Regions from separate parts of the Homo sapiens genome. Here region 1 is linked to region 2. The links come from fine-mapping of genetic effects on gene expression. Tissue or cell type: whole blood. Region 2 holds a variant in brackets; the other region holds the start of a gene. All regions are shown on one strand. Distances are from middle to middle.

The links. PIP is the estimated chance that this variant, and not a neighbour inherited with it, causes the effect.
Region 1: it holds the start of LY9, and the variant in region 2 is fine-mapped to the expression of LY9 in whole blood (TOPMed, PIP above 0.99).

What each region holds. Positions count from the first base shown.
Region 1 is chr1:160,792,512-160,800,619 of GRCh38, forward strand. It overlaps LY9 (lymphocyte antigen 9), which reads left to right and starts at 3,663. Exons shown (of 10, transcript NM_002348.4): 1 at 3,663-3,800; 2 at 7,242-7,571. The coding sequence starts at 3,677.
Region 2 is chr1:160,849,883-160,857,990 of GRCh38, forward strand. All of the region lies in intron 1 of CD244 (CD244 molecule), which reads right to left. Among named protein-coding and RNA genes, the nearest start is that of CD244, 9.0 kb to the right of the region's middle. RefSeq lists an enhancer at 5,506-5,555. The variant C/G (reference allele first, on the strand shown) is at 4,593.

The DNA of each region.
Region 1 (8,108 bases), 57 kb before region 2:
ACATATGAATTTTGGAGGGACAAATACATTCAAACCGTGGCAACAAAGTTTACTACAATTTTAATGAACTAAATTTCCTCAAACAATACATATACTTAAAAAATACTAACTGATTACCTTGAACATGTCTATTTTGTATTCCTTATTTTCCCAGGATTGAAAGATTCATAACCACAAAAGAAACAATTATGTCATCCCATTTACAGCCATTTCCTGGGGTACCTTCTCAATTAGCTAAAGTTGCTTAATGACCAGAAATATCACTGACATGTTAACTAATGGTATTACCAGCACCCCTTTTTTTTTGAGGTGGAGTTTCGCTCTTGTTGCCCAGGCTGCAGTGCAATGGCACAATCTCGGCTCACCGCAACCTCCGCCTCCCAGGTTCAAGCGATTCTCCTTCCTCAGCCTCCCCAGTAGCTGGGATTACAGGCGCGTGCCACCACACCCGGCTAATTTTGTTTTTTTGTTTTTTGTTTTTTTTTTTTAGTAGAGACGGGGTTTCACCATGTTAGCCAGGATGGTCTCGATCTCCTGACATCGTGATCCGCCCGCCTCCGCCTCCCAATAATTTTGTATTTTTAATAGAGACAGGGTTTCTCCATATTGGTCAGGCTGGTCCTGAGCTCCTGACCTCACGTGATCTGCCCACCTCGGCCTCCCAAAGTGCTGAGATTACAGGCGTGAGCCAATGTGCCCAGCTGGCAGCACCACTTTTTGCTTGTTTTGTTGCTACCCTCTAAAAGGCTGGTCTCATAGCCTATATCCCTAGATTCCACTTGAACACTGTGACATTCCCTAATTCTTCCCTCTACTGTGGCTGCAGCAGTTGATTTGATGTTGAATTTCTTTAGCTCCTAACATATATTTGTCTTTCCATCTAAGTGTAAAAAGCTTTGAGCTTGTCAAAATTCTACAGTCTTTCATATTCTTCCAATCTGTAGTAGCATATATATACTGCAAGTCAAGACAACATTAGAAATAAAGTCCAAAAAATGCAATTGTGTAAAATGCAGGGTCGTCTTAATTGCACAGTGAATGAAGTGTTGGTTGGGGGCTGGTGGTGAAGCAACACAGCTGAGTATGTGGTTGTGGCTGCCAGACCCAAATCTCAACCCAGGCTGGAGTCTGATGCTACCTGGAGGCAATGCCCAGTTGACAGGGGTGATTCTGGGCCTGTAGCTGGCGGGACTCCAAGGACAGTAGCAGGGATTTCAAAAATTTTCCAGTCAGTCACACCCACTTGCTGGGGTGGTTGAAGTATACTGAGAAGGACAACACTGGAGACGCCGGGGCCAGCATCACTGGATGTTGCTCCCTGATTCCCAATGCTAGTGCCTTTGCCTCCCTGTCCTGATGAGAATATTAGCCCTCCCCATGTGAGGACAGGGCACACTTAACAAATGCATCATACCAAAATTTATATTAATTTAGGTTTTACTATACTTAAATGATAATACTTAAATTGGATTTTGTGTATTATAAGGCTGTGTCCTCCTATGGTCACAACTTCAAAGGAGGTCATTTCAGTGATGTTACTTTCCTAAATCTCAGTTTTCTCATCTCTAAAATGGGGATAATTGGAGTATCATCCAAATAGGGTCTATCTTAGGATTAAAGGAGAAAACATATGTAAAGTTCTAAACACAGAGGCTCACTCATAGTAATTACCCAATAAATGTTAGTAATGATTTTTATTATTACCAATCTCTCTGAATTCCCTTCTGCCTTTGCCCTCGCCTCCCATGCAGACTGTTCCTGCTCTCATGTTCTGTACCCAGACTCCTTCAATAGCTTCCGCACCTGTCTTCTCATCCCCAGGCTCATCCCTTCCACCCATTCTCCCTCCACTCTGCAGCTCCAGGAAGCTTCCTACTCCTACTGGATTCTTGTTGCCTTTAGCTTGGTAACAGGATGCTTTATCTGGGCTCTGGTAACCTCTCCTGACCGTATGTCCTGCAATCCCCTCTAGACAGCCCATGTTCTAGTCACAGGACCAAGGCTAGAGTGAAACAAGACACGCTCCTAGTGCACAAAATTTAAAGATTTTCGAGATTCTGTCACTTTCAATATTGTGCAACATCAGATCATGACCAGCCTCTAAAGATGCTTTCCATGGACATAAGCCTGTTATCTTAATGGTTTCTCTCTCTCTCTCCCTTCTTCCTTTGAACCCAGACTTCCTGGGTTCAAGTCCTTACTAACTATAAAACTTATAGTAAGCTATTTAACCCCTCTCCACCTCAGTTTTCTCATTTATAGAATGGGGATGATAAAAGATATCTCATAAAACTATTGTAAGATCAAATGAGTGAATATGTTAAAGTGTCAGAAGATGGACTAGCACTCTGTAAGCTTTCATCGAATATTAGCTAAAACTACACATTCTGCCAGCCTCAAGTTTTCCTGCCAAGTCCCCTTAATGTTACAGCCTAAGTAAACAAATGACCTGAAGCCCGAAACACAAACCATAGCATGGCCAGCTATTACGCTACTGACAAGAAGAAGGAGGAGAAAAAGACAGTTTCCCAAGTCAGGATATAGGGAATCATGCCATTCTCCAGCCTACCTTTTCAACTCAGTCACCTCTACGCTGTCACATACGATGTCCACCCCCATTGCAGTCTCCCTGATGCCTTTGTCCATATTAAAAGTCCTTCATTGCATGTGACAGAAAGCTAGCACAAACTGCCTTGAGCAAAATAGAAAATGTATTGGGTCACTGTATTAGTTATCTGTTGCTGTGTAACAAATTGCCCCAAACTTCACAGCTAAAAACAATAAGCATTTTTGATGAAAAATAAAAAATTGAAAAAAAATTTAAAAACCAAACATTTATTATCTCACAGTTTCTCTTGATAAGGAATCTGGGCATGGCTTAGCTGGGTGCCTCTGGCTTAAGGTACTCACACAACTAACATCACGGTGTCAGCCAGGGCTGCAGTCATTTCAAGGACCTCCTGGGGAGGATCCACTTCCAGTCTCACTCATGTGATTCTTGGCTAGCCTCAGTCCTCATGGACAGTTGGCCAGAGGAATCAGCTCCTCGCCGATTGTTGGCTGGGGGCCTCCCTCTGTTCTTTGTTTTGGAACCCTCTCCCTAAAGTATCTCACAAAACAATACCTGGCTCCCCTCAGTGTAAGGTAGGGAGACAGAGATAGTGGGAAAGACAGAGAGGGAGAGAGGGCAAGAGAAAGAGAGAGCGCATATGCACACACATGCTAACCCAAGATGGAAGTCACAGCTTTTTTGTAACCTAATCTCAGAAGTGACCCATCCCACATCTCTGCCACATTCTATTCACTTGAAGCAAGTCACTAAATCCAGGCCACACTAAAGAAGAGGTGATTACACAGAGGCATGAATGCCAGGAGGTACAGATCTTTAGCAGTCACCTTTAGGAGCCAAATTTAGAACCCAAGTCCCTTGATGTCAAAGCAAGTGATGCTCCACATCAGTCACAAATGAGGCCCTGAATAGACTTGGGACCTCTACCTGCCTGCGCAGATGGGAGGAGTCTGTGGTGTTTTGTATAAACAACCCTCCCTCTGAGACACACACACATACACATACACATGCACACACACACTCATATACACATGCAGAAGCTGTGACACGTGCGGAAGCTGTGGTAAGTGCATCCTCCTTCAGTCTCAGTTCTGAAAATAGATCATCATGGTGGCACCAAAGAGTCACACAGATGACTGGGCTCCTGGGCCTTTCTCCAGTAAGCCACAGAGGAGTCAGCTGCAAATATTCTCTTCTGTTCTACAGACCTCTCTCCTCTTCCTGCTCATGGGTAAGTCCACTTTATGGCCACCACTTCTTGCTACTGCGGTTCTTCTGAGGCCAGTTGCATTCCCTGCCTGGGAGATTCTTTTTTTTGTTTTTTGTTTTTTTTAACGGAGTCTCACTCTGTTGCCAGGCTGGAGTGAAGTGGCGCAATCTCGGCTCACTGCAACCTCCACCTCCTGGGTTCAAGCGATTCTCCTACCTCAGCCTCTTGAGTAGCTGGGATTACAGGTGCATGCCAACACACCCAGCTAATCTTTGTATTTTTAGTAGGGGCAGGGTTTCACTATGTTGGCCACGGTGGTCTCGATCTCTTGACCTCGTGATCTGCCCAGCTCAGCCACCTGAAGTGCTGGGATTACAGGCGTGAGCCCAGTTCTTGTTGGTAAAATCGGGAAACTCATCTCCTTGCCAGAAATTACTTTGCATGTGTGCATATTCGTGCACTATGAAGGGGGTAACATTCTAGCCCCGGTCTCAAATAGCTCTGGGCTCAAACTACATTTCTCTTGCCCTCACATTTTCCTAAGAAATGCCAAGTATATAATGAGTTTGTTCCCTGTATGGTGTGGATAAAACCCACAGAGGGATCCAGGAAAATCCCCTGATGAGAAGCCACCTAGCAATTTCCTAGGGATGGAGAGAACTTCTGGAGCTTCTTTCTATGTATCCTGCCTTGGTTATCATATATGCTGGCTTTATTACTGAGGTTTCACTGGGGACCTGGACGCGGTTAGGTGACCATGGGCAAGGTGGCGTTTATCTGGATATCCTTTTCTCCTCAACCTTATTCCTCCCTATCAAGGCCCAACTCCTGGGAAACATCTCTCCGCTGCATGGCCCGGAACCCCACTGTCCAGCAGATAGAGCCAATCCAGTACCCCAGAGAGGATCTCAGCCACCTGGGACTGTGGCAGCTACTGTCCTTCTGTGCTCCCGCTTTCTCCAGGGCTTCAGGGATGATGGTGCAGGTAGCACTAGAGATCTGAGAGCAGTGGGGGTTGGCAGTTGGTGCCTGAAGGGAGCTTTAGAAACACTCCTAGATGCAGATATGGGTGAACGAGGAGCCTAGACCTCAGAGCTGAGGTCCAGTCTGACCTCTTTTCACTTTCAATTTTATCTTGGCTCATCAAAACACACAGAAAGCAGCAAGGCTGTTTATGTTTACCTCCAACCTTTGGGGTGTTCCTTGATTGTGTTGAGCAAACCTGAAATAAGCTACATTCAAGGTCATCCAAGCCGCAAATGATCAATGCAGTGAATTTCAAACAGTTCAGAGCAAAGAGGCATCTCCATTGGTCTGGCTCCACTGATTAGGATGACCTCAAATCTCACTCTTTTGGTCTGAAAGGATGATGCTTTTGTATCTCCAAAGAGTCATTTCAGGAACTTAAAAGGCAGTCGAGTGAAAAGACCCCTCTCACTTTAGTATCAGGAACATCTGAAATTAAATCATTGCTCCATCATTTATTAGTGATGAGGGCCTCTATTTCTTAAGTGTAAAATATAGTTAGTAGGATGCATCATGCAACACTCTTACAGATTGTAGATGATCTATACACACACACACACACACACACACACACGTATAGTGGCACATAGTTGGCAGAAGCTATGATTGTTATTATTATAATTACTGTTACGTGCATTCTTTGGAAACTATTAAGAGACAGGTGAGTCAAATTCAGTTTTGCAATCTTTGAATGCTCTTTTATTATTTGTCCTACGGTGCAATTCAAAATAAAATGACTGGTACTGGGGACCTGTCATTGTACTGGGAGCTGCATTGCACTGTCTTCTGCAACAAGATTTGCCCTGTGAGGCCCACATCCTGCCCCCTCCACTGAGAGTCTGTGAGGCTTTTGTTTATGGTTTTTGTCTGATGTAAGAAAATTTGAAGTCAAAACGAGTCATATGCACCCAGTCAAGACCCAGCAGCTCCTGGGCTTCCAGGATACAGATGGGCAGTACTCCTGGCCTCCCTACTCCAGGGGCATCATGGACATAGGATCTGGACTCTGTGACTGATCAACCCTGTAATCTCAGGGAAGTGGATTAAATTCTCTAAATTTCAGCTCCTCATCTGTAAAAAGGGGCTAATTATAGTATAGTTATGAGAATTAAATGAGATAATTTACATAAAGTACCTAATGCACACATAGCAATCGTAAGCAGTCTCTTCCAGATGGGAAGAGCTCTCTTTTAGAAAACCTCAAACCAACCTCACATCAACTCAGCCTGAATCTGCCTAAAGAATCCACCTGACCCAACCTTCTCATGTCCAGGATCCCTAGCCCTGCATGCTCCATAGCTGCCTCTCCACAAGGTGCAAGTGCTTGGCTGATGGAGGTCTAAGCAGAGAACCCCCATGACCTGCACCAAGCAGCCTCTCTCCTTCCAGTGTCTGCATATTCTGTATCCTCTGGGTTTTCAGAGCTTGCTTCAGCTTTCTTCCGCCCCTCCAGGCTATGCTTATGCTCCTTTTTTGTCTCTAACATTTTCTACTTATTTTCCCACCCAGAATTCCTGGTGGAGTCTGGGTCCCAAACCCATCTGTTTTGGTCTAGAATTTCAAAAGTGCTCTCCAGAGCCTCGGAAGCCCTGGAATCTGGGAATCCAAGCTAGGGTCACCCAGAAGACACCCACAGGGTCCCTACAAGAAAATTAACTGCCTTGGCCAAATACCAGCTTCCTAGATGCCTTGGTAACAATGTTTATCAGGAATATGATCTTGCCTAAGATGAGGAAATCAGGAACTGTATTAGTACCACCAGCTATTCCCACCCCCAAACCTGGCCAAACCAAAGTCAATCTGAGATGCCATGGACAATAAGGGTGAGGTAGAGGTAGGAGAAGCTCCTTTAGTTCCCGACACTGCTATGAGAGTTCTCAAACATTCAGAAAAGTTGGAGCATTTACCCTGAACATTCATAGGCCTACTACCTAGATTCTAACACAAACGTTTTACTTTGCTTGCTTTATCACTCGCCTGCCCATCTAACCATCCCTCTACCCACCCATATTTTTAAAAATATGCTCCTTTTTACTTCATTGGCTCTTCACAATTTGCAGCAACCTGCTTTCATTTCATTTTTACCATATCCCTTGAAGAAAATGGTGCAGGTATGAGCATTTCAATCTTTTAGATAAGATTCACTGAAAAATTCAGAAATGTACCCAAAGTCACAAGGCTAATTCCTCTACTGGAACAGAAACCCAGAAGATCTGTTTCACAGATTGTTGTGGCTGCTTTTAAGGGAGACAGTGTTTGGGGAATGGAGGAATTAATGACTGTGCTAGGCAATTGACCTAGAAGAAGGAGGACAAGAATCTCATTTCATTTCTCAGCATCTGACATTTATGCCCAATGTATATTCACAGAGTGAAAGAAAGAAGGCTAGCTCAAGGAGTCTAGCTGCTCCTCCAAGTCCCTCTTCTATCTCTGCAGGACTAAGAGCCTCTGGAAAGGACTCAGCCCCAACAGTGGTGTCAGGGATCCTAGGGGGTTCCGTGACTCTCCCCCTAAACATCTCAGTAGACACAGAGATTGAGAACGTCATCTGGATTGGTCCCAAAAATGCTCTTGCTTTCGCACGTCCCAAAGAAAATGTAACCATTATGGTCAAAAGCTACCTGGGCCGACTAGACATCACCAAGTGGAGTTACTCCCTGTGCATCAGCAATCTGACTCTGAATGATGCAGGATCCTACAAAGCCCAGATAAACCAAAGGAATTTTGAAGTCACCACTGAGGAGGAATTCACCCTGTTCGTCTATGGTGAGTTCCAGAGAGCTTCTGTGTTTTGATCTTTTCTTTTTTTTATTTGTGCAAATTTATGGGGTATGTGTGAAATTTTGTTATATGTATATAGTGCATACTGATCAAGTCAGAGTTTTCAGTGTGTCTGCTGCCTGAGTACAATATATTCCTGTTAAGTATAGTCACCCTACTCTGCTATCAAAAATTGAATTGATTTTCTCTATCTTACTGTATGTTTGTACCCTTTAACCCACTTCTCTTCATCATCCCCCCACCACCCACTCCCCACACTCACCCTTCTCAGTCTCTGCTATCTATCTTTCCACCATCCACTTCCACATGATCAAAATTTTTAGTACCAACATATAAGTGAGAACATGCGATATGTGTCTTTTTGTGCCTAGCTTATTTAACTTAAGATAATGACCTCCAGTTTCAGCCACATTGCTGCAAAAGACATGATTTCATTCTTTTTTATGGATTTTTAAATTGTTTAAATATATTTAGGGGGTACAAGTGTAGATTTATTGCATGCACATATTGCATGCTGGGGAA
Region 2 (8,108 bases):
TCACCTGAAATCCCAGCTACTCGGGAGGCTGAGGCAGGAGAATCACTTGAACCCGGGAAGCGGAGGCTGCAGTGAGCCAAGATGGCACCATTGCACTCCAGCCTGGGCAACAAGAGCAAAACTCCATCTCAAAAAAAAAATGAATATGTGAAACTGTCATTATTCACAAACTATATACCTGTGTATATAGGAAACCAAGAGGACTATATGAAAAATTATTTGAGTGTAGAAGTCAGTTTTGCAAAATTGCTAGATATAAGGTCAATATACAAAAATCATTTTTATTTCTATATATTAGTACAAACAGATAAAAATGAAATTTTGAAAACAATACTATTTACAGCAGCACAAAAAAGATAAAATATATAGAAATAATTTCAAGAAGAAATATTTAAGACCTATACACCTATTGCAACAAAAGATTGCTGAGAAAAAATTAAAGAGCTAAATAAACAGGAGACTATACCATGGTTTTTATTGGAAGACTTAATATTGCTAAGATGTCAATTCTTCCTAAATTAATTTATAGATTCAATAGAATTCCAATAAAAATTATTGCAGGTTATTTTTATAGAAATTAACAAGTTGATTCTAAAACTTATATGAAAATGTAAAAGACATAGAATAGCCAAGGCAATCTTGATGAAGAACAAAGCTAGAAGGTTTTCACTACCTAATATCAAGATATATTGTAAAACTTCAGAAATTAAGATAGCATTCCAGTATTGCAAGGATTGAAAAGTAGTCGATGGAATATAATAGTCTAGAAATAGACCCTGTGTGTGGGAAAAACACTAACTGTTTTTCCTCTGGTTTCACACCACAACAATCAACACAGAAGACTTCTGTGACCAACGTGTGGGGAGTTTCCCACGTGCCAAGCAAGCAATCAGCTCTTCAGTGGACACCAACTGGATGTCCTCTAATTCAGTTCAATTCTGACACTATCTACCTGTAGATATCCACCAGATGCCAACTGCAAGCTCCAGATTGTTTTACCTGCGCTTCTGACCAACTAGCTATAAACTGGGTTTCCCGTTATTCCCTCCTTGGGTTCAATTAATTTGCTAGATGGCTCACAGAACTCAGGGAAACACATTCACTGGATTATTATAAAGGTTATTACAAAGGGTACCTATGAAGAGATGCATAGGACAAGGTGTAGGGGAAGGGATACAGAGTTTCCATGCCTTCCCAGGGCGTGCCACCCTCCAGGAACCTCCGCATGTTTAGCTCTCTGAACCTTGTTCTTTGGGTTTTTATGGAGGCCTCAATAAATGGGAATGATTGACCACTGGCCATCGGTGATCAACTTAACCTTCAATCCCTCTCCTTTTCCTGAAGGTTGGGGACGGGCTCAGAGTCCAATATTCCAACCCTGCCTTGGTCTTTCTGGTGACCGGCCCCTATCCCGAAGCTGCCTACAGGCTGCCAGCCATCGGTCACCTCATTAGCCTACAAAAAGACATCACTTCGGAATTTCTAAAAATTTTAGGAATTGTATGCCAGGAAAGGAGGTTGAAAACCAAATATATATTTCACAATATCACACAAACCAACACATACTTGATCTTTTCAATAAATGGTGCTTGGTCAAATTGATATCTATAAGGAAAAAAAACCTTGATATCTCCCTCATATCATATACAAAAATTAATTTAAAACAAATCATAAATTTAAATATGAAAGCTAAACCTATAAAGCTTCCAGGAAAAAGCACAAGAGAATATCTTCTACATCTTGAGATAGACAAATGTTTCCTTTTTTATTTTTACATTTTAATCTATTTTTATGTTTATTTTGAGACCAGATTATGAGACTGGCTAATTTTTGCATTTTTGGTAGAGATAGAGTTTCACCATGTTGCCAAGGCTTGTCTTGAACTCCTGGGCTCAAGTGATCCACCCGCCTTGGCCTCCCAAAGCGCTGAGATTACAGGCATGAGCCACTGCACCCAGACAACAAATGTTTCTTTAACAGGACACACACACACAAAAATAAATCACTAACCATAAAAGAATATTGATAAATTGGACTTCACTAAAACTTAGAACTTCTGTTTGGTGAAAGACAACATTGAGAGAGTGAAAAAGCAAGCCAAAGACTGGGAGAAAATGTTTGCAATACATACATTTGAAAAAGGGCTCATATCCAGAGTATATAAAGAATTCCATCAATAATAGACTGATGACAATAATAGACTGGAAATCAATAATACACTGATGACAATAATGACAAAAAAAGCAACAGACTTGGGCAGGCACTTTAGGAAAGAGAATATCCAATAGCCAATAGGCATGCATAAGGGTGCCCAACAACATTAGTTATCAGAGAATAATGAGATTTCACATTCCCACCAAAATAGCTAACATTTAAAGGTCTGAAGGCTGGGCGAAGCGGCTCAAGCCTGTAATCCCAGCACTTTGGGAGGCCGAGGCGGGTGGATCGCTTGAGGCCAGGAGTTCGAGGCCAGCCTGGCCAACATGGTGAAACCCCATCTCTACTAAAAATGCAAAAATTAGCAGAGCACGGTGGTGGCGCCTGTAATACCAGCTTCTTGGGAGTCTGAGGCAGGAGAATTGCTTGAACCCAGGAGGCAGAGGTTGCAGTGAGCCAAGATCACGCCACTGTACTCCAGCCTGGGTGACAGACTGAGACTTGGTCTCGAAAATAAATGTAAATAAATAAATGTGAAAATTCCAAGGGTTGACAGAGATGGGAGCAACTGAGATTCTCATTTATTGCTAGTGAGAGTGTAAATTGGTACCAGCACTTTGGAAAACTATTTTACGGTATCTTCTAAAACTAAACTTACATATACCCTTTGATCCAGAAGAATTTGTACACAAGAAAATCTGGGCCAGGCATGGTGGCTCATGCCTGTAATCCCAGCACTTTGGGAGGTCGAGGCAGGCGGATCACCTGAGGTCAGGAGTTTGAGACCAGCCTGGCCAACATGGTGAAACCCCATCTCAAAAAAAAGAAAAAAAATTAGCTGGGCGTGGCAGTGCACACCTGTAATCCCAGCTACTTGGAAGACTGAAGCAGGAGAATCACTTAAATCTGAGAGGCGGAGGTTGCAGTGAGCCAAGATCATGCCATTGCACTCCAGCCTGGGCAACAAGAGTGAAACTCCGTCTCAAAAAAAAAGAAAATCTGGTGTTTATATCCACTAAAAATATGTACAAGAGTGTTAATAATGGCTTTAGTCATAATAACTCAAAATGAGAAAAAACCCAAATGTCTATCACGATTAGATGAGCAAATAAATCGTGTTATAGTCTTATAAGGAATATTACACAGCAATGAAAAAGAAAAGCTACTTTTCCTGGCAATAATGTGGATGGATCTCACCACAATGATGAGTATTAATGAAGCTAGACTCCAAAAAGTACATAGTGAATTATTTCACTGATATAAAGTTTAAAATCTGGAAAAACTAATATATGGTGAGAGAGGTTAGAATGTGATTACCCTTGCAGGAGGGGGGTTATCAACTTGAAGGGCCAAAAAGGAATGACTGGGTGCTAGAAATGTGTTACATCTTGATGTGGGTAGTTTTGATATGTACTTACACATATAAAAGTTCATCAAGCTGTTGATTTAAATTTTGTGCACACAGCTGTGAGTTGTATCTTGGTAAAAAAGCAGAAAAAGAGTAATGACTACCTCTCACTCAACTGTTCTGACTATTAACTAAGATGTACTTTGATAAAAGCAAAATATGACTTGCCCATTGTGGAAACATTACCATAGCAAGTGAATTTGTAGATTTCCTCACTCATCTCAGCTAAACCCAACTCTTAGCTAAATATCAGAAAAGCCTGGGAGGCAGGGGTTGCAGTGAGCCATGACTGCACCACTGCACCCCAGCCTGGGTGACAGAGCAAGACCCTGCCTAAAAAAAAAAAAAAAAAAAAAAAAAAGTGAAAAAGGAAGATAGACCTAAAACAGCCAACTGAAATGCAATATGGAATGTGCTATGGAGGTGTGCCCAGGGTGTGAGGCAAGCATAAGGAAAGCATGTTTTCCTCTGCCCTGCAGAGTTAGGAGTGGCTGCCCAGAGGCGGTGGGTGGGAGCTGCCATTGAAAGAAAAAGCCAAGGCCTGCCTGGTGTATGCAGAAAGGAACAGGGAAGGTGGGTATTATGGACCCAGCAGTAGCATGGTTAAGGGAACACAAAACACACGTGTGGCTTATGGGTCTGGTAAAGATGGAGCAGGTTTGGAGAATGGGGTGATGGAACATGAGTTTAATTTTCAGGTGTTTAGTGGTGGTTTCACTTTATTTTTATCTTTTATAAAATTGTGAGAGGTAGCACAAGTATTAAAAGGTACTTAAATATAAATATACGGTGTAATGAAAAATAACGTAAACTCCCATATAATCCACCAGTAGATCAGAATGTAGAGCGCTATGTAGAAGAAGGTTGTTCTCTGCTATTATAAAACTGAATAGGAATCACACAGGAAAATGGTTAAGTTATTGTCTAGACTTCTTTGTTTGTTTGTTTGTTTTAAGACAGAGTCTCGCTCTGTCACCCAGACTGGTGTGCAGTGGCATGATCTCGGCTCACTGCAATCTCTGCCTCC[C/G]AGGTTCAAGTGATTCTCCTGTCTCAGCCTCATGAGTAACTGGGACTACAGGTGCCTGCCACCACCCCCAGCTATTCTTTTTTTTTTTTTTGTATTTTTAGTAGAGACAGGGTTTCGCCATATTGGCCAGGCTGGTCTTGAACTCCTGACCTCAAGTAATCCACCCGTCTCAGCCTCCCAAAGTTCTGGCGTGAGCCACCACTCCCAGCCATAGACTTCTAAATACTTAAAGAATGAAATGTGTGATCTACAGTCCTCATGCTATACTGCCTTTGGGGTCTTTTTAAAAATTAGGCCGTTATATTTTATTTTTATGTAATATTATATTAGTTTATACATTTAAGACTGGTTTGTCTGCAAATAAAAAGGAGCTAGAGAGAACACCAGGTGTTGTTTTGATTTTTCAACTGGAAGGAAACTGTACTAAAGGTAGGAAGCCCACAGAAAAGGAGCAGCTGAAGAAAGATGAGGGATGTCTTCACAGACAGCAGGTCCCAGGTGACTTCTGAAAGAAGCTCTGGTGCCCTGAGCACACAGGGGAGTATTGGTCAAGGACAGGGCAAGAACACTCTTGCCCTCAGCAGAGGCAAATGTGGCCATTTACAGGAGTAGATGAAGTACATTGACACTGGAGACTTGTTGGCAAGGTTGGTGGAATCCCTAACTTGTGCTTCTGTTTTCTTAAAGAAGGAGGTTGTTGGTTTGTGGAGGCTGAGATAGTGGAACAGGGCCTTGAAAGAGATGACGAAGGTGTGGAATTCTCCCACCTTTTGGGGAACAGGAGAAGCTGTGGGCCAGAAATGAGGATTCCCAGGACACTGAGAGTCCAGCTGGGGTTGGAGATTACGAATCTGTAGCTGCTCTTTGTTGCTGAATTTTCTCCTGCAGCCCCCAACAGTCCAGTGTGGGAAGGAGGAAGATGGTTGGAATGAGTTTCCATGGACGGCCTGGAAGGGGTGGGTGCCAGGGCAGGGGTGCAAAGCAGATACGGTGAAAAGGCAAGTAGACAAGTCACTATGTCCAGGGTATTGTGACTGATACAGAAAGACCTCAGTTTCTGTCCCAGAGGGGTACACACACCAGATAGGGGAGATGAAATGCTACTACGAAAACATAACTTCAACACAAGTTCTCACACATTTAGTGAGGCATAGAGGAGGACCCAACAAGTGAAAATTGTTTAGAGGAAAGAGGCCACAGTCCAGGAAGGCCCCCGGGCCCCTGCCACTGCTGTTGCTACTGCTCAGCAGCTTTGGGGGCCACCTTCCTGTGGTTAAGAACGGATGAGGTGAACTAGTAACTCTGAAAGGGAGGGCAGAGGGCAGATGATTAACTCCACTGCAGCCTCAGGAAGAACAGAGGATGGTCAAGGAGACAAGTACAGAGGATGGTGAAGGAGACAATCTGATCCAGCAGTGAGTCCCGCTCAGCCCTGAGCCCATGTGCAGAGCTCTGAGTCAGCTCAGCTTCCTCCAACCTGGACCTGCCAGTCGGAGGAAGGTGTGGGGCCTGAGCACCTGGGAGAAGGAGCACGGGAGGGTCTCAGAGCAAGTGGAATTTCCACCAGCCAACAAATAGATGTTAAGGTTTTCTCAGCTAGGGCTTGTGCTACCAGGCTTGGGGTGAAGGCATCAAAAGATGTACCTGCTGGGGACTAAGTGAACAGAGTCCAGTGAGATTCCAAAAGTACTGGGGCAATCCAGCTCTAGTCAGGGCAAAATCATAAGATAGATAAAGTATCCTATAGGGCCCACATCCCATTTCTTTCTTCCTCTCTATTTAGCTTCATACTGACCATATTAACTCTCTTCCTCAGGCAATGCAACTCCCTTACCTCTGTCAAAACTCACCTAGCCCAAGTCCCACTCTTTGCATCAGTTAACCAAATCATCTCATATGTGATATTGTTTCTCCATGATAACAAGTGCATCTCCCTTTCCTGTTTCCCATCCAAACCCCATGCAACCCTGGCTTTTCTGAGCTGTTTCCTCTGCTTCAATTGTCCTTCTACTTTGTACCTACCTCCTAAACTCTTATTTATTCTTCAAGGCCAGTTCCCCAGTGTTCCTACCTAGAAGGAATCTTCATCTTCTTAGCTCCTTTTTTATTCTAAATGTATCTTGCCTGTTAATGACACATAGCATTTCCATCTTCCCTTATAGTTGTAATTATACATACCCATTTTCCTCTGTCTGAAAGATTCTTAAGGGTAGAATAGACATCTGTTTCATCTTTGTTTCCCCCACAAAACCTTGCATAGTTCTTGGAGCATAATAAGGGCTGGGGAAAGAGTTTATGAATAAGACCTCAAAAGCACAGGCAACAGAAGCAAAATAAACAAATGGTATTACAGCAAACTAAAAAAAAATCATGTACAGTAAAGGAAACAATTCACAGAGTGAAAAGGCAACCAATAGAATAGGAAAAAAAATTGCAAACTATGAATCCTACAGGCAACTAATATGCAGAATAGACAAGAAATTCAAACGTCACAACAGCAAAATGAACAACCCAAGCAAGGGCTTCATGAATCCGTTTAAATTAATTAATTCAACAATGCATCTCACATAACTCCTAAAAATGACTCTATTGTCAGAATTTCATGCAGGATACCAGAGAAATCACAGAGCTGTAATTCCCTTGCCTTTGGCCTCTTGCCAAGCTCCACATTTCCACAATTTAATTTTCCATCTGCAGACCTTCAGAACCAAAAGCCAGTGGCCCCAAAGCAGCATGGAACTCTCATGCACTATTTGGTTCAACCACTTTGGAAAACAGTTTGACAGCATCTGCTAGAGTTACGTACACATACTCCATGGTTCTGCCCCTAGAGATATACCCAACAGACATGCATGCACAAAAGGCTCATCACAGCATTATTATAATAGCAAAAACAAAATTGAAAGCAACCCAAAGGTTCATCAATAATAGAAAAGGTGAATAAACTATGATATAGTCATGCGATAAAATACTATACAGCCATGAAAATGATCTGCTACAAATAATAACATACATAAATCTCATAAGATGTTGAGCAAAAGTAGTCAGACACAAGAGTGCATACCGTTTGATTCCATATATACGGACAAAACAAATCTGTGATGTTAGAAGTCAGAATTGTGGCTATATTTATGGAAGACAGAGGAAGTAATGAATGGGAGAGAACATGTGGTAGACACAAGAGTGTGTTCATTTAACAATAGCTCATTGAGATGTACATTTGTAATTTTGTGTACTTTTCTGTATGTTGCACTTCAATAAGAGAGGTTTGTCTGTGAAGACAATGGCCTGGCTGGGCACAGTGGCCCACATCTGTAATCCCAGTAATTTGGGAGGCCAAGGCAAGAGGATTGCTTGAGCCCAGGAGGTCAAGACCAGCCCAGGCAGCATAGCAAAACCCCATCTCTACACAAAAATTAAAAATAAGCCAAGTGTGGTGATACATGCCTGTAGTCCCAGCTACTAAGGAGGCTGAGGCAGAAGGATTGCTTGAGCCCAGGAGGTCAAGGCTACAGT